Linked DNA regions of Homo sapiens: regions 2, 3, 4, 5 and 6 are each linked to region 1. Evidence: fine-mapped expression QTL. A gene starts in region 1. Each other region holds a variant in brackets. All regions are shown on one strand. Distances are from middle to middle.

Evidence for each region.
Region 2: its variant is fine-mapped to the expression of LYRM4 in whole blood (TOPMed, PIP above 0.99). The same link has a PIP of 0.9 or more in monocytes and monocytes after LPS.
Region 3: its variant is fine-mapped to the expression of LYRM4 in whole blood (TOPMed, PIP above 0.99).
Region 4: its variant is fine-mapped to the expression of LYRM4 in whole blood (TOPMed, PIP above 0.99).
Region 5: its variant is fine-mapped to the expression of LYRM4 in whole blood (INTERVAL, PIP 0.95).
Region 6: its variant is fine-mapped to the expression of LYRM4 in visceral fat (GTEx, PIP above 0.99).

What each region holds. Positions count from the first base shown.
Region 1 is chr6:5,259,232-5,263,319 of GRCh38, reverse strand. LYRM4 (LYR motif containing 4) reads left to right here and starts at 2,370. Exons shown (of 3, transcript NM_020408.6): 1 at 2,370-2,672. The coding sequence starts at 2,587. FARS2 (phenylalanyl-tRNA synthetase 2, mitochondrial) reads right to left here and starts at 1,807. Exons shown (of 7, transcript NM_006567.5): 1 at 1,660-1,807. RefSeq lists silencers at 2,290-2,509, 2,570-2,879 and an enhancer at 3,090-3,139.
Region 2 is chr6:5,133,687-5,137,774 of GRCh38, reverse strand. The region is part of intron 2 of LYRM4 (LYR motif containing 4); the gene reads left to right. The region is part of intron 3 of LYRM4-AS1 (LYRM4 antisense RNA 1); the gene reads right to left. Among named protein-coding and RNA genes, the nearest start is that of MIR3691, 13 kb to the left of the region's middle. The variant C/G (reference allele first, on the strand shown) is at 1,793.
Region 3 is chr6:5,236,330-5,240,417 of GRCh38, reverse strand. The region is part of intron 1 of LYRM4 (LYR motif containing 4); the gene reads left to right. LYRM4-AS1 (LYRM4 antisense RNA 1) reads right to left here. Exons shown (of 4, transcript NR_126015.1): 4 at 1-2,710. It overlaps LOC124901249 (a long non-coding RNA gene), which reads left to right. Exons shown (of 2, transcript XR_007059423.1): 2 at 1-1,867. Among named protein-coding and RNA genes, the nearest start is that of LYRM4, 23 kb to the left of the region's middle. The variant T/C (reference allele first, on the strand shown) is at 2,239.
Region 4 is chr6:5,107,250-5,111,337 of GRCh38, reverse strand. LYRM4 (LYR motif containing 4) reads left to right here. Exons shown (of 3, transcript NM_020408.6): 3 at 1,847-2,919. The coding sequence ends at 1,915. All of the region lies in intron 3 of LYRM4-AS1 (LYRM4 antisense RNA 1), which reads right to left. Among named protein-coding and RNA genes, the nearest start is that of PPP1R3G, 24 kb to the right of the region's middle. The variant A/C (reference allele first, on the strand shown) is at 1,980.
Region 5 is chr6:5,127,452-5,131,539 of GRCh38, reverse strand. The region is part of intron 2 of LYRM4 (LYR motif containing 4); the gene reads left to right. All of the region lies in intron 3 of LYRM4-AS1 (LYRM4 antisense RNA 1), which reads right to left. Among named protein-coding and RNA genes, the nearest start is that of MIR3691, 19 kb to the left of the region's middle. RefSeq lists an enhancer at 1,118-1,704. The variant G/A (reference allele first, on the strand shown) is at 1,542.
Region 6 is chr6:5,087,660-5,091,747 of GRCh38, reverse strand. PPP1R3G (protein phosphatase 1 regulatory subunit 3G) reads right to left here. Exons shown (of 1, transcript NM_001145115.3): 1 at 2,261-4,088. All of the region lies in intron 3 of LYRM4-AS1 (LYRM4 antisense RNA 1), which reads right to left. It also overlaps a transcript of LYRM4 not described here. Among named protein-coding and RNA genes, the nearest start is that of PPP1R3G, 4.4 kb to the right of the region's middle. The variant C/T (reference allele first, on the strand shown) is at 1,624.

The sequences.
Region 1 (4,088 bases):
AGGACTAAGCTACCCAAACTATTTAAACTATACATATTTATTTGGAAAAGTTTTATTTGATTACAACAAAGTTGAGTAATTTAGATACATTAATTATGTACGTTAATGATTAAATTCCTTGATAATTAGGTAGAAACAATTGTATATAGTAATTATTCCAACTTTACTCTCAAAAGCAAAATATAATAAAATAATGTAATCTTTGCTATTTTTAAAAAAGCCAAAATAATCTTCAAGTTTTTCCTTTTCACTCTGATAGCATTCTCTATCAGTAACTTGCATTAATGTTGTAGCTTTGAGGTGCCGCATATCATTTCATATCACTGGCACACAATAGTGTATCAAGAGAAATCAGCTCTGAATCTTACTCTATAACAATGTGCAATTGCCTTGGTCTTGGATCCTTTAAGAAATAGCAAAGGGAAAACTCAAAAAAGTCCTTTCAATAAAGCAGAGGCTAGATTTGCTCAATGACCTGACCAACCAGGAAGTAATAGAAGTTTTGCTATCCTGTTTAAAAAATAATAATAAACAATAACAGACATGAGATTTTCAAGAAATCAGGGAGGAGACTTAAAGATATCTTAATAAAAGTATTTTCTCTTCAGTGCCTTTTAAAAAATGTCATTGCATCAGGATTAGTAAGAATATCTGGATGCAAGGACACCAGGTTGCAAGTACACTAAAGAATGGTAAGGTCAGAGAAGTGTTTTTTCTGCCTTTAAAGTTCCTGAAAATAGAGGCTGGGCGTGATGACTCACACCTGTAATCCCAGCATTTTGGGAGGCCGAGGCGGGCGGATTGCCTGAGGTCAGGAGTTCGAGACCAGCCTGACCAACATGGTGAAACCCTGTCTCTACTAAAAATACAAAAATTAGCTGGGCGAGGTAGCGCGCGCCTGTAATCCCAGCCACTCAGGAGGCTGAGGCAGGAGAATGGCTTGAACCTGGGAGGCATAGGTTGCAGTGAGCCCGAGATCCCGCCACTGCACTCCAGCCTGGGCGACAGAGCGAGACTCCATCTCAAAAAAAAGAAAAGGAAACAGAAAAGTTCCTGAAAATATAAAGTTGTTTAGACATACAGCAGGTATATCGTTTCAAAACCAAATACACTAAAGCAGATGAGAACACAACCGTGACCAAGTGGTTCGGAGAAAGATGGATTTTAATGCAAAGTTGTTTTGTTTTCACGCATAACGTACTTCTCGCTGTGCTTGAGTGCAGAAAGGTGTGGTTCTTCCTAAGGTTGATTACATAAAGCAAGATTCCAAAAACAAGAAAAGTGCTTTGCAAACACAGTAACTAGGACTGGCTGAAGCTTCCTGCGTCCAGTGCCATGCTCAAAGATCAGAACAAGCAACTTTATCCACCACTTTAATAAGATGATTCAAAAAAGCTGCAGTCTTCTGAAGAAAGCCATGGTTGAAAACTTGCTCCGCTTCTTGGAGAAAGCCTAAAGCCCTAAAGGTCTCTAATTATTCTCCAAAGTCTACAACCCAAGCTGCATTTTATGCATTTATTAGGTTACAAAACCACGGGAACTCTTCACTCAAAAGCAAAAACACATCCGGAAAGAGGAAAAAATCCACGGCCAATGTAAACCCCCTACAACACCAACCGCCCACGTCGTACCCCAGGCTGCAATGAGGCCGGCACTCACCCACCGCTCGCCCGGGAAGCCCAGACCCAGGTGTTTCAAAATCAGAAGTACGGCAGGCTCGTTCGCTCTCACGGGCAAGAATCTTAAACCCCAACTTCAGAGATACCCGCGCACGCTGGGCGCTGCCATTTTGACAGAAAGCGGGCCTGCCCCAGAGGCCCCTACGCAGGTCGCCCTGAGCAGAGCCGGAGTGCCACAGAACCCCTAGCTCATCACCTCCACACCCAGACGTCGCATCCCCCGGCCTGAGGAATGCCAAGAAACCCCACCCTGCCGACCAGGATCAGGCGAAATCAAGTCACCCTTGAAATCCCGCAAACTCTCTCAGGCAGCGCCGAGGGCGACCGCAGCCGGCGTGGGAGGGGCATCGGCGGTCAGGGGCGGGGCGTCGGTGCGGCGGCCTTCGGTAACCCGGGCAACGCGGCCTCCTGGATGTAGGAAGGGGCGCTGCCCCCGAAACACAAATGTCTCCGCCAAGACCCCAGACGGTTCCCAAAGGCTCTCCGTGATGCAACTGCACGTCCCTCGAATGCCTGGGCCTCCGATATCCGTCCGCCAGGAGCTTGGCTGGATGCACGGGCGGCCAGTCCTCTTATTTCCCCGCCCTCCCGCCGCGTGGAGCGGCTGCTGGGTCCCGAGCCTCCGGGCGGGGGCGGGATCGGGGCGGGGCGGAGGCATCTCCCTCCCAGCACCGCCCCCTTAGCTGCCCCGAGCCCTGCCTGCGCCCGCCCCCGAAGCGGCGCGGGACGCCTGGCGCCGTCCGCGATCCGCAGGGCTGCCCGCTTAGGCTTAGGCCCGGCCCGCTGGCAAAGCCGAGCCGCAGCATTTTATTTCGTTCGTGGTTTCCGCACAGGCTGGAGTTTCGTGGGTTGGGTCGTACTTGGGACCTCGGCGAAGAGGACCCGTTTATTTTTTTTTCTTTCCAAAATGGCAGCCTCCAGTCGCGCACAAGTGTTATCTCTGTACCGGGCGATGCTGAGAGAGAGCAAGCGTTTCAGCGCCTACAATTACAGGTGACCCAGCGGGCACCGGGGGCCGGGGGCGGGGGGCCAGGGGCCGGGGACCGGGGGTGCGGGCTGACGCGGAATATCCCCGGGGACTGGGAGCCACCGTGGTTTGCCGGCGGCTGCGAGGCAAGGACCGGGCTCCGCCATCGAAAAGCGTGCTCCTGCCTACAGGTGTGGCCTCTGAGACCTCGGGGAGGAGCCTTTCTTTCTACCAGGGGAGACGTTCATGTCTTGTGACGTTTTCCCCCTAAAGGCTATCTTGGTAGTTATTCTAGGAGCATGATTAGTGTTATGTTTCTGCAGAAGAGAAAAAAGGGATGGAAATCAGTCATTTGTGAAGTTAAGGCCAGTGTGTTGCATATGTAAAACTTCCCTTGAGCACTGGAAGAGTTGAGAGTGGAAGTGGCCAGTGAGTAGTACACTGCGACAAAGCTGAAGGCACACTCTAGCACCTCCCTAAAATTTCCTAGGTGTCGTAATGAGTTCTTTTGGTTGCAAGAATCCATTCTATTTAGGGTATGGTGGAAATGCGTAGCGGAAAAGGAAAAAGGGTCTCACAAGCTTTGGAGCTGAAACCTCAGTTTCTCCTGGCTCACCAGACAGAGATCCCGCTTACTGGACCTTGACAGCAGGATATTGAGGGCCTAAACTCACATCTTTAATATAACACATTCACTTTTTCTCACGCCTCCCCACTCCCCTATTTGCCTATGAGTCTTTTATTGTTACTCTTTGTATGTTTTTTCTAATTCAGAGCCTCTGCTTTCACAGTGTTGCTGGTTCTGACCCATCATTTTCTTATGGATTCTCTCTCTGCATTTTTTTTTAGATTTGTTTTTTGTTTTGTTTTGTTTTTACTAACTACCTGTCTCTCTCTGAGTTTGAGCCATATTCCCATGAGAAAGAATCTGGTTGGATCAACTCATCTCTTTACCTCAAGCCTCACTTAGGTGACTGGCCAGACTGTGGATTGGATGTCATAAGAGCAGAGCCTACCCTTGGAACACACCTGGTTAGGTAGGCCCCCCTCCAGCACGTGTGTGAGCTGGCAGGCCCTGAGATGGGTCTGCCCAGTACAACCTCTGTCAGAGGACAGGAACGCTAAGCCTCTTAAGCAATGACTCTCAAATTTTTAGAAACCCGCCTGGAAAATATACTCATGCTGCAAATTTGAAAACAGCATCTGGGTCATACCACTGAGGTTGTATCCACCCAGTTAAGTGGTTAAATTTCACGGGAGAGAATGATTTTACTTAATGACTTTGACTTTGGAGAATAAAGAGTGTAATAATAAGCATACTGGTGGAATTTTAGCAAGAATTAACCAAACACCTAGCACCAAGTACTTAACCAAGTCTGTTGAGGAAACACATGAAATATGCAAGTTAAATAAATAGAAACCATTTGATTTCACCATAGTCT
Region 2 (4,088 bases), 130 kb after region 1:
AAAGAGCAGGAATCCTGTCTTTGAGAATAGGGCAACAATCAACTGGGTGGTTTTAATTATTCAGATAGAGTCACAGGACATTAGATGCAGAATATTAAAATCTCCATCATTCAGGGGAAATGATCTTAAATACAGATAGAGGCATATCACTAGCCGGGTAGCAGAGTCATTATTTAAAGGACACTAGAGTTCCTCTGTGAGGAGGAACTGAGCTCAAAGAAGATGTTCAGTATCAATGCAGTGAGATTACAGAGTACAAATCTGAACACCTTTGTAAGCTTCTCACTAAGTGGAGGAGTGGGGCCAACTCCAGGAGCTTGGTTTTTGCTTGTCTGAGAATCTCTTGACAGGTCCTAGAAGCAACCATTCTATGTTGGGGCTTAAAAAGAAGAGGTAGTGTGATCCAGCAATCCCACCCCTACATGTATACTCAAGAGAAATGAAAACGTGTCCACACAAAGACTTATATGCAAATATTTATTGAAACCTTATTAGCAATAGCCAAAAAGTGGAAACAACCCAGATGGCCATCAGATAATAAATGGATGAGCAACATGTGGTATAGCCATACAATAAAAATATTATTGGTGGTAAAACGGAACCAAGTACTGATACATGCTAGAACACGGATGGCCCTTGAGAACATTATGCTACGGGAAAGAAGCCAGACACAAAAAGTCACGCATTGTGTGATTTCGTTTCTGTGAAATGGCCAAAATAGGCAAATGCATCGAGACAGAAAGTGGGTTAGCGGTTGCCAGGGGCTAGAGAGGATGGGACATTTGAAAGGCGACTAATGAGTAGTGTTTCCTTGGGGGTAATGAAAATGCTCTAAAATTGATTGTGGTAATGGATGCACAACTGTGAATATACTAAAAACCATTGAATTGTACACTTTAATTGGATAGATTTGATGGTGTATGAATTATATCTCCATAAAGCTGTTAAGAGACATCAGGAAGAGACCAGAGTTTCTTCTGTGCGGAGCCCTCTGCCACAGGAAAGGAAGGAAGTCTACCCAGTCTTCCTACAGGCGCTGCTCCTTGGGGCGGTTTAGCATGTCATTACCACAGACTGTGGCTAGGACCTGTGGGACTCATTTGTAAATGCCACCTTCTTTGACAACACCTGGGATTGTTGAAATGGAAGTAATCGATTACTAGAAGCCATTAATTGAAAGCTGTGTGCCAGGCATTGTAGTAAGACATTATAAATACCATCTAACTTATGTAAAATTGACATTATCCCATTCTGTAGGTAAGGAAACTGAGACTACAGGGTTAGGTGAAACCCAAGGTTTCGGAGCCAGTGATTGGCAGAGCAGGTGTTTAAACCAGGTTTGTCTTGGGACAAACCCCAGGCTCTTAAGTACTACATTATCGTGTCTTCCCGCTTCTCCACCCTCAACCCAGCCCCAGTCAAAAAGGCAGCAGGAAAGGGGACAAGTTATCATTTAGAAGAATACTGATTTGGTTTTAAAAGTATTGAATAGAATGACCAAATGATCTAGTGATTCCATTTCTCAGTATATACCCCAGAGAACTGAAAGCAGGGACTCAAAAGGATACTTGCCCACCAGTGTTCAGAGCAGTATTATTCACAACAGCAACCCAGTGTCCCTCAACAGACGCCTGGATGAACAAAATGTGGTACAGCCGTACAATGGAATGTTACTCAGCCCTAAAGAGGAAGGAAATTCCGCCACACGCCACAGCAAGGGTGAACCTTGACGACATTGTCCTAAGTGAAATAAGCCATAGAAGAAACAAATGCTGTATGATTCCACTTACGG[C/G]GGTCCCTAGAGTCCCCCTACAGACGGAAAGTAGAATTGCGGTTGCCAAGGACTGGAGGGGAGGGAGAATGGAGAGTTAGTGTTTAATGGCTACAGGGTTTCAGTGGAGGAAAATGAAAAGATTCTGGAGAAGGATGCTGTTGATGGTTGTACAACAATGTGAATGTACTTAATGCCACAGAGCTGTACACTTAAAATGAATAAAATGATAAATGTTGTGTTTTGTGTATTTAACACACACACATACACATCAGTATTGTGTGTGTTTGAAAGTCTAGAGCTAGAAAGCTTTTTTGAGTATATTTAGCAGGAAAACTTAAAAGAAAGTTCTCGTCTTTGGAGGAGACAGGCCTGAGGCATCCAGAGGAAATGAACACCACCTAGGGAGCCAGTTCCATTCCCATGAAAATCACACCTGGAGCGATCCGCACCCTCCACAGCCCCAGGAGCGATCCGCACCCTCCACAGTCCCGGGAGTGAACCGCACCCTCCACAGCCCCAGGAGCGATCCGCACCCTCCACAGTCCCGGGAGTGAACCGCACCCTCCACAGCCCCGGGAGTGAACCGCACCCTCCACAGCCCCGGGAGAGAACCGCACCCTCCACAGCCCCGGGAGCGATCCGCACCCTCCACAGTCCCGGGAGCGATCCGCACCCTCCACAGTCCCGGGAGTGAACCGCACCCTCCACAGCCCCAGGAGCGATCCGCACCCTCCACAGTCCCGGGAGTGAACCGCACCCTCCACAGCCCCGGGAGTGAACCGCACCCTCCACAGCCCCGGGAGTGAACCGCACCCTCCACAGCCCCGGGAGAGAACCGCACCCTCCACAGCCCCGGGAGCGATCCGCACCCTCCACAGTCCCGGGAGCGATCCGCACCCTCCACAGTCCCGGGAGTGAACCGCACCCTCCACAGTCCCGGGAGCGATCCGCACCCTCCACAGCCCCGGGAGCGATCCGCACCCTCCACAGCCCCGGGAGCGATCCGCACCCTCCACAGCCCCGGGAGCGATCCGCACCCTCCACAGTCCCGGGAGTGATCCGCACCCTCCACAGTCCCAGGAGTGAACCGCACCCTCCACAGCCCTAGGAGTGCCGTTACCAAGGGAGAGGAAGGAGAAGGAATAGGGATGAGATCTCTTAAATAGACATTTGATGACATTTTCCCCAATTTGTTAGTTGCAATGACGAAGACTTTTTGCTGTTTAACCTGTTATTATGGAAAAATGTGAAAATATACAAAAGTATGTAGAATTGTCAAATGAGTCCTGTGTATCCATCACCCATCTTTAAGAGTTAGATACTCTGTAATATCAATAGATGGTATTTTTCATCCTTACGCCTACCCATGCTCTCCCGTATTGTTTTGAGAAACTGTGTATTCGTTTTCATATTAAACTATTTTGGTACATATCTGAAAAGATGATTCTTTTTAAAACATAGCTATGATACCGTTATCATAACTAACAAAATAATGCTAATTCCTTAATATCATCAAATACAAAGTGTTTAAATTTTAATGTCTCACAAATATCACCAATCTTCAAACTGGGTGATCTGTCTGTAATCTGTCTTTAAAAGAAATCTATAGGCCCCATCTGTATCTTTTTTTCTTCCTTGCTCTTCTTTTTCCTTATAATTTATTTGCTGAAGAAGTCAGTTCTTTTGTCTGGATTTTGCTGATTTTATCTTGGTTTTCTTGCTTATCTTACATAAAAACTGAAAGCTCTATCTTAACCAACTAGGTTCTTAGCCTTGGCCAGACATTACACTCACCTGGGAAGCTTGTAAAATCCTGACATGTGTGGAAAGCAGCTTGTCACTTCCTCAATAAGTTAAACATAGAATTACCATATGACCCAGCAATTTCACTCCAAAAGAATGGAAACAGGTTCAGACACAGTCTTGTATTCGTATGTTCACAGCAGCACTATTTTCAATAGCCAAAAGATGGAAACAACCCAAATATCCTTCAGCTGAGGAAAGGGTCAACAATATGTGGTATTTCCACGCAATGGAATATTATTCATCCTTAGAAGTCACAAAGTACTCATGCGTGTTTACAACCTGGATGAACCTTGAAAACACTGCGGTAAATGAAAGAAGCCTGACACAAAAGCCACATATTATATGATTTCATCTGCATGTCTACGGAAACCCATAGAAACAGAACATAGATTAGTGGTTGCCAGAGGCTGGGAAAATAAGAAAACAGGGAGGGGCTGCTTAATGAGTATGGGGTTTCCTTTTGGGGGTGATGAAAATTTCCAGAACTAAATAGTGTTGATGATTGTAC
Region 3 (4,088 bases), 23 kb after region 1:
TGAGTATCCTAAGGTAATATTATCACAAAGGGTACAGTTTTATACATTGAAAATAAATTAACTTGGGTACATGCCATATTCCAAAGTGTCAGCAGAGGAGGGGGAGTAGTGTTAATGTAAATACTTCTGCAGAGTAGTAATAATGGATGGCAGAAAAAATGAAGAGAAAGGAAAGATAGGAGGTGAGATTTTACCAGAGTGAGTCAGGGAACAAGCAGACGTAGAGAAGGCCTGGAAAGGTTGGATGTACTGTAAGGAGAGTTTTCAGCAATAGGATACAGCTGAGGCTAGGTTTGGCAGAGCTAGGTGGAGTACTGAAAGGTGATGTCTTCGAAGCCTGTGGTGTTTTGAGTCTTATTTTGCCCTGTTTACCTTAATGGAAGGAAAGATCCTAGACCACAGGCCCTGGGTTCCACCTGATTGGCTGCGGCAGGCAGCATGAGCATCCCTGCCGGGGGCATCAGCTTCCCTTCTCTCTCTGTCCTCTCATGCACTTGTTCTGCGCCATGGCCAGGTACTGTTCCCTATGGGGGTGGTGAGAATGTTTTTAAGGGCCTATGCTCAGGGACCCTCATAGAGCAGAAACCCAGATTCTGCAGGTCTGGAAGAGCCTTGGGAAAAGACCAATGTGGCCTGTGCCGATTAGGAAGTCAGTGATACCCTGACAGCCTGCAGCTGGTGGGAATGGTCTGTGCACTCTCCCGGCTGTCAGCTGCCCTCACTCCTCACTCTGCTGCAGTCTGGCCTGCCACCTTCCTTCTTGTCACTTTCCTTCATTGTATCTTTGGCCCAATTAACCAGTCTCCAGCTTCTTTCTTCCTTCCCTAGCGTGCGGGACACCACCTTCTCCTTGTCTGCTCCTCTCTTGGCTCCGCTTGACATTGGAGGCCCCTTGCACTCCATCTTGACCTTCCCACACCCTCCCTAGATGCCCACAACTCATGGCTCCAACCTTGTGTGCTCTAGTGATTCCCCTCCATTTGTCCTTTCCAGGGGCCTCCTGGGCATTTTCTGGTTATGCTACCAACACCTCGTATCTAAACTAAAACTCCACATCATCCCTAACCCATCCCCAACCTAATCCTTCAGGCAAACTCAACACTCCAGCATTGCCTCTCATCATCCCAGTATTTCCTTGTGCAAGCTGGAAGTCACTTCACTTTCTCCCCTTACTTTACCGTAGTCAGTAGGTCCTTATGCCCAGCAGGTTCTCTCACTTATTTCCCTTGCCGGACCTTCTTTATGTCTCACGAGTTGATTGCTTTTTGTTGGTTCATCAGTTTCTGTCTGCATTTTGTACAGCCCCCTCCGGGTCTATCTACCTCCTGTTCTTTGCTCTGCCAGGCATCCTGCCTATTGCCACCGGAAAGAATATCTTTCTAAATTCCAAATCTGATTCTGCTGCTTGCTTAACACATGCGTGTAAAAGTAGCATAATGGGTTATCAGAAGCAGAATTCTTCCTTTAGAGGCTAACATTTTGTCAAGAAAATTTGACTAGGTAGATTTCAAATGCATAAATGCTGAATGAGAGCCCAGTTAATAGTCTCGGACTATGAATAACTGTGTCCAAGACCTTATTATGTTTATATGAAATAGGTTGGATTTGCTTATAAAATTCAGGTATCCTAGTAGATTCATTTTCTGCTGCTGGAAATAGTAAGGACTGACCCTGGGTCAAAATTTGCATTTGTTTCCTATCATGTAGAAACTTCAGCAAAATAAACAGGATCATAAAATTAACATTTTATTGTTCTTCACAGATCTGTATTCACTTCACCACTCTCACTGAATTAAATCACCCTGTTACTTGTTTATGTAAGGAAAAAAGAACAAGTCAACTGACTGAATAAACTATGGGTTATTTACAAGGCCCCTGGACTTACTCCTATTTAAATGCTTATGATTTGTTAGTTGACTTAATATATCCAGTGCCTATACAAATTCAGATAATCAATGATGTCTCTTTAAACACAAATCCTCTAATAAGAATTTCTTTTTTAACATGAGTATAGAATTACGCTGGGAGTGACTTCTCTTAACACTGTCATTTTGCTGCAGCATGGTTAAATTAAATTTACTTGGACTGCCCTGTGAACCTTACCATCATTTAACATTGTTGTTCCAAATTCTCAGTAAGAAATTTTAGAACCCTATCATGTCTCTCAGTATATAGTTTATACTCCCATAGTTTATTTGAAAACAAGTTGCATTTAATTTTATTCTGAATTTCGATATA[T/C]TTTTAACCACAGATCAGAATTGTTTGTGGGTGTGTTAAGTAAGAAAAATCAGGAAAATAAGAATAGGAAAACCAAAATAAGTCCTGGGATGAGGTTTCCAAGCAAAAGGGTGGTTAGAAGGCAGGACAGTAAGCAGCCAGGAGCACGGCCTCAGGTCTGGTTCTGAGCTTCCCAGCAGCCTATGCAGGGAGAGGACCATGATTAGTAATGTGAGTCAGAGTGTCTGTGATACCGAAGCAGCCACTTTCTTAGAAGAATTGTAACTCTTTCTGGTGCTAAAGCGGAAGACATTCTCTTATGCTCTTTCAATGAAGGGCAGCATCCTCAGCATAAGTACAACAGTTTCAAAGGGCCTGTGCTTCTGGCATCCTGTCACGTTGGCTGGTAGCACAAGGCCACAGTAGGAAAGCATTTTGCAGGTAACCAAAATTGCAGGTCCTTGGCACATCCAACAGACACAGCTTAGCATATCTAGAAGAGTAGATACAGGGCTTGTCTTTTAGGCAATCCTTCATAAGTAGTGCTCAGTTCACCCCAACTTTTCATACATTTTAAACCAGTGGTCCCCAACCTTTTTGGCACCAGGGACTGGTTTCATGGAAGACAATTATTCCACGGACTGGGGTTGTGGGGGATGGTTTCAGGATAATTCAAGCACATTACATTTATTGTGTACTTATTTCTGTTTATTACATTGTACTATATAATGAAATAATTATGAAACTCACCATAATATAGAATCAGTGGGAGCGCTGAGCTTGTTTTCCTGCAACTAGATGGGTCCCTCTGGGGATGATGGGAGACAGGGACAGATCTTCAGGCGTTAGATTCTCATAGGGAGTGCACAACCTAGATCCTTCGCATGCGCAGTTCACAATAGGGTTTGTGCTCCTATGAGAATCTAATGCCACCACTGATCTGACAGGAGGTGGAGCTCAGGTGGTATTGTGAGCGATGGGGAGTGGCTATAAATACAGATGAAGCTTCGCTCATCTGCTGCTGTGCAGCCCAGTTCCTGATAGGCCACAGACAAGGGTTTGGGGACCCCTGTTTTAAACACCAGTGGATGTGAAGTTACACTCCCATACAAGCTCTAGACTGAGTAGAAAGCCAATTCTTTACCTTGAGGGATTTCCCACGGACAGAGTCAAAGACCCCTAAGAACTTTGAACCCACTGCAATTCAAAGCCCTTCTGTTCTGTTCCTTAGAGATTGTCTTTTTAAGAGACAGGGTCTCACTGTCACTCTGGCTGGAATGCAGTGGCATAATCACAGCCCACTGCAACCTCGACCTCCTGGGCTCAAGTGATCCACCCACCTCAGGCTCCCAAATAGCTGGGGCTACAGGCATGCAGCACCACACCCAGCTAATTTTTAATTTTTTTTTTTTTTTTTTAGAGACAGGGTCTCACTGTGTTGCTCAGGCTGGTCTTGAACTCCTGGGCTCAAGCAATCCTCCCGCCTTGGCCTCCCAAAATGCTGGGATTACAGATGTGAGCTACTGCGCTTGGCCCCCTTAGAGATTTTTTTAGAGGGATTATTATAACAGACCATCTCTTTTAAACAAAATAATATTCAGATGAGATCTTCAAATAATTTATAAACTGTAAGTCTGTAGGGTTAGTTTGAGTTAGGAGCCACTTAACATGTACCAAAAATGAAAACTTTGGTTTCAGAAAATTTTATCTAACACTTTTTTTTTTTCCTTTTTTTTTAGATGGAGTCTCACTCTGTCGCCCAGGCTGGAGTGCAGTGGTGCTGTTTCAGCTCACCACAACCTCTGCCTCCTGGGTTCAAGCAATTCTCCTGCCTCAGCCTCCCGAGTAGCTGGGATTACAGGCGCCCGTCA
Region 4 (4,088 bases), 150 kb after region 1:
TCCCCTGAGATCAATTAAATACAGAACAAGCTCCCAGGTAGCTGAACCATCCCAGCTGTTATACAAAACTGTTTGTATTAGCCTAGTTTTAATTATCCAAAAAGTAATGGTTCCCTTTTTTTTAAGGATCATTGGTATTCTAGCCTTTCTTTTCTCAATATCATTTGATAGTGGGTTCATCTATCTGTTGAGGTTAATATATGAAAACAAAACCATGTACTATTCAGGGTGGAGGACAATGCCAATCCTCCCCTTCTCTGTAGTAGGGTATAGATGGCTTCAGCTCACCCAGCAGCTATTTCAGGTTGTCCAGAAGGGAAGGCCAGAAAGTCCCTGTGCTGCATTCATCGTGACTGTACCGTAGCCCCTGAGAAAACCAGTGCGGCTCCTCACAGCCCTCAAGATGATTTCCGACCTTGCCACCTAAAGTGTGGCCCGTGGACCAGCAGCATCAGCATTACCTGCAGGTTGCGAGAAACGCAGCACCCCAGACCCTCCCCATCCACTTGCGTCCAAAGTCTTCTCTATATTAATGAGAGGAAAGGACGACTGAAGACACAGTAGCAAAGCTCATCACTGTGACTTGTTAGGAGCACTCATTCTCTACACCCCCTTCCCATAACTCCTACCTACCTCTTTTGGTTTTTAATTAGGACATTCACTTGCATTTAAAAATACCTGCAAGATCCCCCCATCCCCCATATCTCCACTGTCTACTTCTCGTTCTTCTTAGATGACGTGCTGCTCTCGCCTCTTCCTTCGCTTTCTCTTGCACCGCAACACTTAGTTATTATCCATGCCACGGACCTTCAAGATACCTCTGTGCAAGGGCAGACTGAAGACCGAGCAAATGGCATGGAAAACAGGACACCTCAGATGGACGGCGCGGCGGTCCTTGGTGACAGAGCACTGCTCTTTAACACATGCTGTAGTAATGACATGATCGCCTTCTGTCCGGGGCCTTCACTTCGAAATAGAGCACTAAGATCGGGGAGGAAAACCATGAGGATGTTGACCCCTGGCTGCTCTGTTTGCTTAAACAGCAGTTACTCACCCCGAATTACCCATAGATAGTGACCAACTGGTCTGAAATCCAGATAGAGTTGCTAATGATCAGCCCTTCCTTCACCCATTCCACTTGTTCTTAAAAATGTATCACTCAGGAAATGCTTTACAGAAAAACTGTGGCAAGACCCTTTGTTGCAGAGGAAAGACCTGCTCTAGCCCCAGAGGATGGCTCCAGCATCCACCTGGGACAGTGGAAACATTGGGCATTAAGACACTTAATAAAAAGGACACTTTAAAAAGAAGGGGGCAGGAAAGATAGAAGGCAGGAGGTGCAGGCACTCAGACAACTGCCCTCGACCCCACCCGGGATGGGCCACGGACAGGTGTCTGCATTGCCCTGAATGCAGCGCTTTTCCTACCCCAGCATAGACGGCGCCCATTTCTGCACTGTTCTAAAACCCCTTCCCTATGCGAGAATCAGTTCTAAGGGAAGGAAGCCCTCTTAGGAGAGGAGGTACTGGGCACACATCTGACAGCTCTGCCACCAGCAGGCAGGCGTCACCCAGCTCAGCACAGCCCCGAGTCCCAGGCTGCAGCCTCCTGTGCTGTTTCAGAGGGGAGGAATGGGTGTGTGGATCTCTGTAACTTCTCACAGTGAGGGAAACGGGGGTTGGATGGTGCTCTAGTGGCCGGCTTTGCCCCGCAGTGCAGTTGCCGGAAGGGAGCAGCCCTGGGATGGCCGACGTTTGTATTAGAAATGTTAGGAAATGTTCCTTCTGGCCTTTCCCAGGGGCTAGAGGGCCACGGTTCCTGACCTGTGTCCTTTCTTTGCCTTCAGGTCCACATTGGCCAACTGTATTCAACTGACAAGCTGATCATTGAGAATCGAGACATGCCCAGGACCTAGCAAGCCGGGGACCAGCCACCAGTGGCGGCCAGGGACCACCTTCAGCATCCACTCTCTGTTTGAG[A/C]TGGGGGCTCCCAAAACCAGCTTACAATAGCCTTTTGCGCTGCCTGTCCTGTGGGAGCTGATAAACCAAGTCACATTTGCATTCTGTTGCAGGCTTAGTGAAAAAGGACTGCTGTCTTTCCTTGGTTCAAGTGTTAGAATGGAGAGCTGGAGTTCGTTCAGAATAGTGCTGTGTGTTACCACGTCTCCCCTGCACCCCATTCCTACCTTGTAGCTCATGACCATTGTGTATAGCATTTCTACACTTTGTTTCTTGGTCCTTGGCAATAAAAAGAATGATCTCCCTGAGCCTTTGACCCCAGATAAACCCCTCCCAATTAATGCATTTTCATTTCCTACTGATACAAGGCCTGGAGAGGGCTGTTGGGGGCCCTCAGGGAGGGTTCAACTCTGAGACGAGAACTGCCTTGGTGAAGGCAAGTTCAAGCACCACTTGAGACTGGGGGCAGCATGGAGTAGGGCAGGGCTACGGGGATACACGGTGCACCCTGCAACTTATACCTGAGCCCAGTACAACAAAGGTGACGGGTGTGTAGGTACACACCCAGAGATGGAGCACTGCAGATCAGCAACCTCAGCCCCACCTGGGAATTTGCTGGAAATGCAGGCTCAAGCCCCTCCCCACACCTGGTGAATGAGAGAGCCCCAGCCTGACCCAAGCCCAGGGCGACTCCCATACCCTGAAGCCTGGGGCATGCTGGGCAGCACCGGTGCCCAAATCTGGCTGGTGGACAGAAGCACCTGGAGAGTTGGAGAGCTTTTTAAAAAGACATCTCTCAGCACTTCCCTCTCTGCAGATTCTGACTCAGTAAGTGAGGGGTGAGGCACAGTCATTTTTCTCTATTCTGAAGCTCTCCCACTGTTTTCAATGTTTAACCAACTGGGGACCCCTGCTCTTTAAGTATATTACAGGTAATAAAGATATTGTTTGTATGCTTTTATTCTTGGAAACAGATTCATTCCAAACATAGAAAGAACATATTAAATAACTTGCTTGTCATCTGGGGAGTTTACGAGGGACCAGACCTGGCAGAGCGGTTTCTTGTTTCCCTTTGCATACAGTGCTCAGTGGATTTGGTATCTGTGGGTTAAGGTTTGGAACAGGCTCCTATAAATAGCACCGGTCCTGGAATAGCTGCAGCACTGTCACCCCCTCATTTTAACTCCGACGGTCATGGGAGTGAGTACGCACTGTCTGAGCCCGTGTTCTTCTCACCCTCATATGAGAACTCATGTCTTCCAGTCGCTTTTAGAGAGCATAGATTTGCTGCAATGATGCGTTCAAATAGATGTAACGTGTAGCCATTCTATTTGGCAGTACAACTTTTGATTTCAGGATAAAGTCTTTTTTTTTGAGATGGAGTCTCGCTCTGTCACCCAGGCTGGAGTGCAGCGGTGCGATCTTGGCTCACTGCAACCTCCACCTCCTGGGTTCAAGCCATTCTCCTGCCTCAGCCTCCCGAGTAGCTGGGATTACAGGGGCCTGCCACCACGCCCAGCTAATTTTTTGTATTTTTAATAGAGACGGGGTTTCACTATGTTGGCCAGGCTGGTCTTGAACTCCTCGGCCCCCCAAAGTGCTGGTATTACAGGCATGAACCACCACCCCCTGCCAATTTCAGGATAAAGTCCTGAGCATCTGTGAAAATAATGAAGCTCTTAGCAAGTCCCAGATCTCTTACCCTCTAACCAGTTCCTGCCTGGGAGCTGCAGTGTTAGAGCATATGCAAAGCCCTAATTGGGGGAGAGCTGTTCGGTGGACAGTGAACGGAGGTGATGTGGCAAGTATAATCACTCCCTTCAGCTGACTGTCACGGGGCAGAGCCGCCCAGCCCAGCCCTGTGTGTGGCTCTGGCTCAGGTTTTCCACCTTGCATCAGTGCAGTGGAGTTCGTGGTCACTCAGCAGTGAATGCATCCAACCACGCTACTAACGCACGGCACTGCTGATTTATACTTAATTTAAGCAACTGCTACTTGGAACCGAAGTCCAGATTTGAACCTCCGTGCTGAAGGCATCAAATTGCCGGCAAGATAACAGCTCCAGAGGAGACTTCTCCCACTCCCCCAGGTTTTACGCAATGAGGCAGTCCACCCAAACTTAACGTGGGC
Region 5 (4,088 bases), 130 kb after region 1:
TTTTAAGAGATGAGGTGTTGCTATGTTGGCCAAGTTGGTCTCAAACTCCTGGCCTCAAGTGATCCTCCTGCCTTTACCTCCCAAACTGCTGGGATTACAGGCGTGAGCCATTGCACCCAGCCAGACACAAATTTTTTTCATGTATTCTCTGAGATACATGTGTGTGTATTTAGTTTGTCCATTGTATTATTCAAATTCTCTGTGATTACCTTTTTAAGAGGAATATCAAAGCTCCCCACCATCATTTTGCCTTTGTCAGTTTCTCCTTTTATTTCTAATAATTCAGGTTTTATATACTTCGCTACAGTCTTATTTAGTGCTTACAGCTTTATGACTGCCGCATCCTGTCTGTAAATGTTGCTCATTATTTAGTTTGAAGGTTTTAGACTCAATTCTGCCTTGTCAAATATTAATATAAACTAGAATTTTCCCCCGCATATATACCCGGTATATCTTAACTCATCCCTTGATTTTCAGTCTTCCTTTACCACTTTTGTTTAAAGGGTTTTCATCTTGTTTTGTTACCTTTCCCAGTTAGTCCATTCACATTTCATATTATGGCTGATGGAGTTGATTTTATTCTGTCTTATGTTATTATGTATTTTAGTTGGTTCTCTCTTTTCCTTATTTTTAATGGTTTTTATCAAGTGACTATTCATTCCCTGTTTATCTCTCTTTTGTCAGTTTGGAAATTCCATTCTACTTTTCTGTGCCCTTAATGACTGTCTTCTGTAGCCCAATGTTTATAATTAGAAGCATATATTTTTTACTATTATGTATAAGAGGATACCAGTTTTTCCCACCAAGACCTGTTTCCCTAGACATAAATTTCATAAAGAAGTTTATTGCTGACTAGTTGTTTTTCCCGAGTCTCTGAGTGCTCTTGCTGTGTACCACTTGTTGTCTTCCTCTCCTCAGCAGTTTTAGAAGCAGCCATTTGTTTCAGGTTTTTCTGTCTGGCTCCTGGATTCCCTTAGGCAATATTTCTTTGTCGTCTCACTGGGGCCCAGGTCTGCTTGTTACAGCACCCCATGTGCCTACAGTTCTGCAGGTGGTAAACGTGAGTGGCTCCCTGCTCCGGAGGACCAGTGGGGCAGCAGTGGCGGCAGCTGCCAGTCTCCCTGTTCCCAGGTCCCCTGTGCAATGCCAGCCTGACGAACAGGGAGCAACAGCCTTGCTCTCTAGCCCCTGCTTGGCAGATAAAGCTCACTTGGGAGGCAGTGACAGCCAGATTCCCAGGGCTCACACGTCTCCTCCAGGCCCACTAATCCCAGAATCCCAGCGTTGGCCTCCAGGCCCTGCATGGTCCACCAGGAGGAAAGCTCTCATGAACTCCCCCTGCAGCCCACGCCCAGGCCCAAGACCTCACTCACACCAGTGTCTCCCCCAGCGCTGGGGTGGGAACAGGGGAAGCATAGTCTATTCAGGGCTCCACAGTTCCAGAATTCCTCTCTCTAGTACCTCTTAATGAAAAAGATTTCAGATTTAATTAGTTTTTGTAGCCAGAGCTGGGAATCTAATCCATATTTAGAACATAATCT[G/A]TAAGAAAAGCATATTCCAAGTACTTACCAACTTTGAATGAAGACTTCTGCAGCACAGCTGCCTTCCCACCCGTCCATACCCCTGCTTCACCTCAGCACGAATCTCTCTGACTTGGCCTGTTGGGCTGCTTTGCGCTCTCGCTTCTCCCTCCCTTCAGTGTGGCTGGTGGAGTAAGGATGGTCCTAGGTCCTACATTTTCACATTTTCCACAGTAAGATACATTACATTTTTAAAAATAATTGTTTTCAACAAAGCCATAAAGGAAGATCTGGTAGGCTGAATAATGGCCCCCAAAGGCGTCCACATCCTAATCCCCGAGACCTGTGAATGTTACATTTGATGGCAAAAGGGACTTCACAGGTATGATCAAATGAGGACCTTAAGATGGAGATCAGCCTTGGTTATCCACATTGGCCCTACTGTAATCACAACTATTCTTCTAAGAGGAAGGCAGAGGGAGGTTTGATTGCACAGAGAGAGAAAGTGGCAGAAGCAGAGATCAGAGCGGCTGCTTCGAGGATGAAGCAGGCACCCCAGGCTAAGCAACGCAGGAGGCCATACAAGCTGGAAAAGACAAGGAAACAGATTTTCCCCAGAGCCTCGGGAAGAAGCCAGCCCTGACAACACCTTGACTTTCACCCAGTGAAACTGATTTTTGACTTCTGGCCTCCATAACTGTAAGAGAATAAACTTGTGTTGTTCAAAGCCACCTGTTTGGGGGTAATTTTTGACTGCAGCATTAGGAAGCTAACACACAGGGTAATCCTTTGGAGAAACCTGGGTTGTCTCAGGGCAGCCCGCGAGCCCAATGCCACTATTTCCCATATTCCCAGCTGAGTGCGGGAGCAGGTAGACGCAGTCCGAAGATCACACCATCAAGTGCAGTGGCCACTGATGGCCTGGAAGCATAGCTGGGGTGCAGGCAGGGTTGTGGCCGCTCGCAGCCTCTAAGCCCTCAGGGACAGTGCACACGTGGAGAGAAGTCCTTTGGGGGATTGAGCAGTTTTTTGAGCAAGCGCATATGTAAGGAGCACATCAGAAGCTCTGGAGAGGCAAAGTCAAGCCTTTGAAGGGCATAGGCCCAAGCACTGGCTGCCCAAGAGAAGCCCCAGGCCCTTCTCTGCTGGTAGCATCTGCTCCCTCCAGGTGCTGGCGGCATCACCTAGTCATGCAGGTGACATGGGGCCTCACACAAAAAAATGTAAATAAAAGCAAGATTGATGAGCTTGGTCATACCCCATGTAGTAGTTCATATCCAGAGTCCTGTGGGAACATCGAAGTGTGGACAAAGAGGAAACCAAAAGAACAGTAAGAGGGTTCAAGAGACATGTTCACAAAATAGTTATGAGGAGGGAAAAGAGGAGGGAAGCATCTTCTCCAAATGCACGTATTTGTGACTGTCACTTCCTCTCAAGGGGCACTGAAATCTCCAGATATGATTTCCTTCCCTGAAGAGGAAGAAGTTAAAGGTGGCTCCTTTTTATCTGCCATCTGTCAGCCAGGCAGCCTTGTCACTTTGACTTTCTTCAAAGAGATGTACTCCACCACTATGAAGCCCAGTAGTTCCATTTACTCCTGAGTGAGGGGTGAGCTAGGGACGCAATTTGTATCTACGAGGCCACAGGGCATTCTTATTTTGCAACTCCATATCACCCCTGTGTACAGCTGGGAGCAGGGTGTGTGAGCGGTGATGGGTGCCCTGCTTCCAGGATATAAATGTCATCACTGCAGTCCTCTTCACTATGGCAGCTTCTATAAAATATTTCTCTGCAGACAGTAAGAAACCTAAATTGGGATTTTCACTTAATTTTTATTAATCCAAGCAGAACCAAGTTTGCTTTATAGAGAAATCAACAACTGTAAGACACCCTCTCCCATTGCCTGCCCAGACTCTTCCTCGTCCAGGTGCTGATTTGTCTACCACCAAAAAAATTGTAAAGGATGGTGTAAATGTCAATTTCTGGGTTTCATACTATCCTATAATTCGGCAGGATGTCTCCATTGGAGGAAATAGGGTGAAGGGTACAGGGACCCTCTCTCTACTATTTTTTGCAACTTCCTGTGAATGTATATTTATTTCAAAATTAAAAGCAAGGGTTAAAAATGGTAAATTGTAATGTAACAATGTTGTTTTTATCACAGGTTTTAAAAAACCCACTAAAAATAAATAAAAATGAAAAAAGGATGATACAGATCACATTGTCTATTAGAAAAATCACGTAAGCTATAAATGCAAGCTATATGTGTAATTGTCTAGTTGCCACATTTTAAAAAGCAAAAAAGAACAGGCAAAATTAATTCTAATAACAATTTCTTTAACCCAGTATATTTAAAAGATTGTCATTTAAGCAATACAAAAAAATTAACATATTTTCCTTTTTTTCTTACTAAGTCTTTGAAACCCAGTCTGTATTTTATACTTTATAGAACATCTCTGTTTGGACCAGCCATATTTCAAGTGCTAAACAGCCACATGTCCAATGGAGTAGCACAAGTCTAGACAGTATTGGGGCTGTAATTGCGAAATATTTAGTGACTTTTTAACC
Region 6 (4,088 bases), 170 kb after region 1:
TTTTACTACTCCATTGATCTCACCTATTTGATTCCTCTAGTACCAACTCAGTAGGAAAATCTCACCAGCAAATCTTAAAAGGAAGCCCTTGATCTTTGCCATCTCAAACATCTTCATTTAGCTGACATGTGCCTCTGTTCTTTCCAAAAGTTTCCTGTTCACAGTTAACCAAAGTCAAAGAACTAAACTTCACAAAAAGCAAATGCAATGTCTACCAAAAAGATTCAAAAGAGTTGAAATCTGAATGCGCCTGAAGTTACGGTATTTAGCACTCTGACAATCAGACCTTGAAGGATTTAAGGATCAGTGACCGCTGCGTTCTGATGTCACCTCCCTGATCAGCTAAAGGGAGTCCAAAGAGGAACACAACAGTTCACAAGGTGGAAGGTGTCTATTTTGTGGTCTGGAAGCAAAAAACAGTGTGTCCCAGGTTTCCAAGCACCTGCCCACTTACACTCAAGACAGCCAGGACCACTCTGTAGGAGGGGAGGCCGGGACACTGCAATGAGCCCGGATTGTCAGCTGTTCCCAGCCCCTTGCCTTAGTGACTTCAGGCAGCACATCCCTGATTCCAGGAGTCCATCGGGTCCTGGCATCTTGGGGACTGGCTGGACAAACGCTGGACTGCAAATAATCCGTGTTGCCAGTTGAGTTTCCACAAGTCACAGCATATTCTTTTAATCTACAAACCTGGGTCCTATTGTGTGAACCAAAAATGCAAGTTTGATTCAGTTCCATGATGCCATTAATAAAAAAAAAGAAATCACATTTCCTCTCTAGGGCTGTTCCTTACACTCCTGATAAAGAACACATGGCACCAATCACTCTGCCCCACAAGGCTCCAAGCCACAGTGCTCCAAAGAAACACAGAACTGAGTAGGGGAATGAAAGATCTTAGCCTACTAAAATAGAAACCGTTGTGCTAGAAAGCTGAAATATGGAAACCTGTGAAATGACGTATGAAGAATCCGACACTAATGCTCCTAAAATGAACTGAGCAGGAAGGCTGTGGGCGGCCTCCTTGTGGACAGGCTCAAGAGCCACAGCATTCCAGGGAAGCCCTCACCCCTCGGTCAAGGCAGAAGAAAGGACACTGCATGAGGGGACGGTCAGAATGGAAAGCCCACCGCACACCTGAGAGGAGAAAATCCCCTGCCCCTACAGCTGAGGTTTGTGGATAACAGCAACTACCCCCATTCCCAGTTGCTCCTGAAAGGCTGCCTGAGCCGTGGCTCTTGCTGCCCTGGACAGAGACTTCCAGTGTCTCCAGAGCTCAGTGGGTTTCCAGAGTCCACCGTACACTTCCTGGAGCAGGATCCTACCCTCCCTAGTTAAGTCTTGGAACTGGCTGACCACCTTGCTTCATAAACCGGAAGCTTCCCGGGGAGAATATTGTTTCATACAAACTGCCACATTCCCAGCCCATGTTTCTGAAGCTCTAGATAGGGACACATTTCATCCAACATTCCCTCACCCAGTGATCCATGGACACACTTGCCAATAAGGAAGAAACTAGACTCCCTCTCTGGTGGAGGACAGGGTCATTAACTCAGCTGAGAACTTAGTTTTTATCACTAGTGCTAGGTAACGTGTTAAAGTTATTGCATTTTTAAGGAGAATGAC[C/T]TTCACTTACTCAAGTTGAAGCAAATATTGCTGCAAAAAAGCACTGACTGCATTGCAGGGATTTTGTTTGTGGTGTGTGTGTGGTGTGTGTGTGTGTGTGTGTGTGTGTCTTCCTTTCAGGAAATACACTCTTAAATACTTCCTCACTCTGGTCGTATTGCCCTTTCCTTTGAAATAACTTTTCAAAAACAAAGAAAACCTATTTTTATTACCTTTACATTTCACTGCATAATGTTTGCTATTAGTCTACAATGAGAAGTTGGCACTTTTATAAAACAAAATGGACATTCAAAAGATTGCCAGTGCTAATGCTTTGGAAAGGCTACACACATTGGTGAAATACTGGGCTGTTTAAAATATTTTACCAAATTATGAACATTTGACGCACTAGTCTCTGAGACTGGGAGGAGAGCAAAACTAGGTTTCCTTTCCTAGCAGCCATACTGGATGCTCATTATATTATGAAATAGTTTCTTTTAAAATGAATCATTTGAACTTTAAAATATAGTTTTGAAAATCAGTAATGGTGTTATGACAGAATAGAAAGTCTTCTGTACATACCACTAAAAATCTATTTCTCTTGTTTGAGTCCAGATTTAATGGGTTACCATTTTAAAGGATACTAGACACAAAGATCTCTGTTTGAATCATTATATTGGGCTCCTCATTTAATTTTAAGTAATTCAAAACAATTCAAAATGTTGCTTTATTGCCCCACAAACAAGCATTTTCAAACAATGTTATAGCATATGTATACTGTCAATATCTTAAAAATTAATGTATTTATAAATATATCGGAAAAATATGGTTATGCAATAATGTACTTTTAAGAAATGGTATATCAGACCAAGATTACCTGATGATGCATCAGAAGGCTTCATAGCTTTTATATTTAGTAACAGAAAAATTGTTTCATTTTATCATTTATTTTTCGTCAAAGTTTTTATAAGCATATATGAATTAAGTATTCATTAGTTCATTGATATGACCATTGACCATTTTTAAAAGTCTAAATTGTAATATGTTAACTCCTGATGGCTTGCTGTCAATAAATTATTTTTTTCCTATGATCAGTTTACTTTGGGAAACACTGCCATAGTCAAAGGGATATCTCCAACCCAAAGTTCAAACTAAATACTTCCATTGTGTAAGATGCCACATTTTGAAGCACAGAGAAATATCTGGCAGCTTTGTAGTTTGAAGCCAATTCAAACGGGTGCTATGTTTCAGTTGCACTGATGTGTTACTATTTTTTTAGGTGAAAGAAGGCAACAGGTAGATTCCCCTGCCTGACACAATGATAACCGCACTTTTCACATTTTCGTGTTTATTCTAAACAAGATTACTGAGAGTCATATAAAGCTTTACCTTTACCCAAAGGGGGTTTATTTCAAGTGGCAAAAGCTCACTAAAGTCTAAATGCTTTATTAACTATAATTGTCAGCATATTGTGTTTAAAAAACACTACTTCCCTAGAGCAGGGGTTGGCCAGCCTTTTGTAAAAGGGCCAGATAGTAAATATTTTACACTTTGCCATCTGGTCTCTGCTGTGTCTACTCCACTCTGCTGCGGTAGCATGGAAGCAGCACAGAGAAGACAGAAATGAGTGTGCACGGCTGTGTTCCAGTAAAACCTGATTTGTGAACACTGAAATATATATTTTATATAATTCTCACGTGCCACCAAATAGTACTTTCTTTTGAATTTTTTTCAACAATTTAAAAATGTAAGGCCAGGTGAGGTGGCTCACGCCTATAATCCTAGCACTTTGGGAGGCCAAGGCGGGTGGATCACCTGAGGTCAGGAGTTCAAGACTAGCCTGGCCAACATGGTGAAACCCTGTCTCTACCAAAAATACAAAAATTAGCCAGGTGTGGTGGCAGATGCCTGTACTCCCAACTACTCTGGAGGCTGAGGCAGGAGAATCGCTTGAACCTGGGAGGCGGAGGTTGCAATGAGCCAAGATCGCACATTGCACTCCAGCCTGGGCGACAAGAGTGAAACTCCGTCTCGAAAAATAATAATAAGAAAATTAAATTAAAAATAAAAATGTAAAAACTATTCTTAGGTCACAGGCCCTACAAGAATAAGCTGTGTGCCAAATTTGGCCCATGGGCCAAATGTACGTATGCCCAGCCCTGTTCTATCAAGCAACAGTGAAACTGTCCCTCCTTAGAGACTACCATCCCTAAAACGACTGACTGTACTCGCCATGTGCTGGAAAATGGGAAGACTTAAAAAAAGGGAAATCACTGAGGCAGAGTCAAGGGGCGACAGACCTTACTCGGGATGCCCTCCTGCCCACCCATGCACAGAGGGCCACATCATCCTGGCATCCACAGCCAGCACAGCGACCAAGGCCGTCCATACCCCACCCAACGGGCCTGCAGAGGTGGCCATCTGCGTCTGCGCAGCACTGACTCGCTGGGCATGCCTCCTCTTCCATCAAGTCACCACTCCCCACT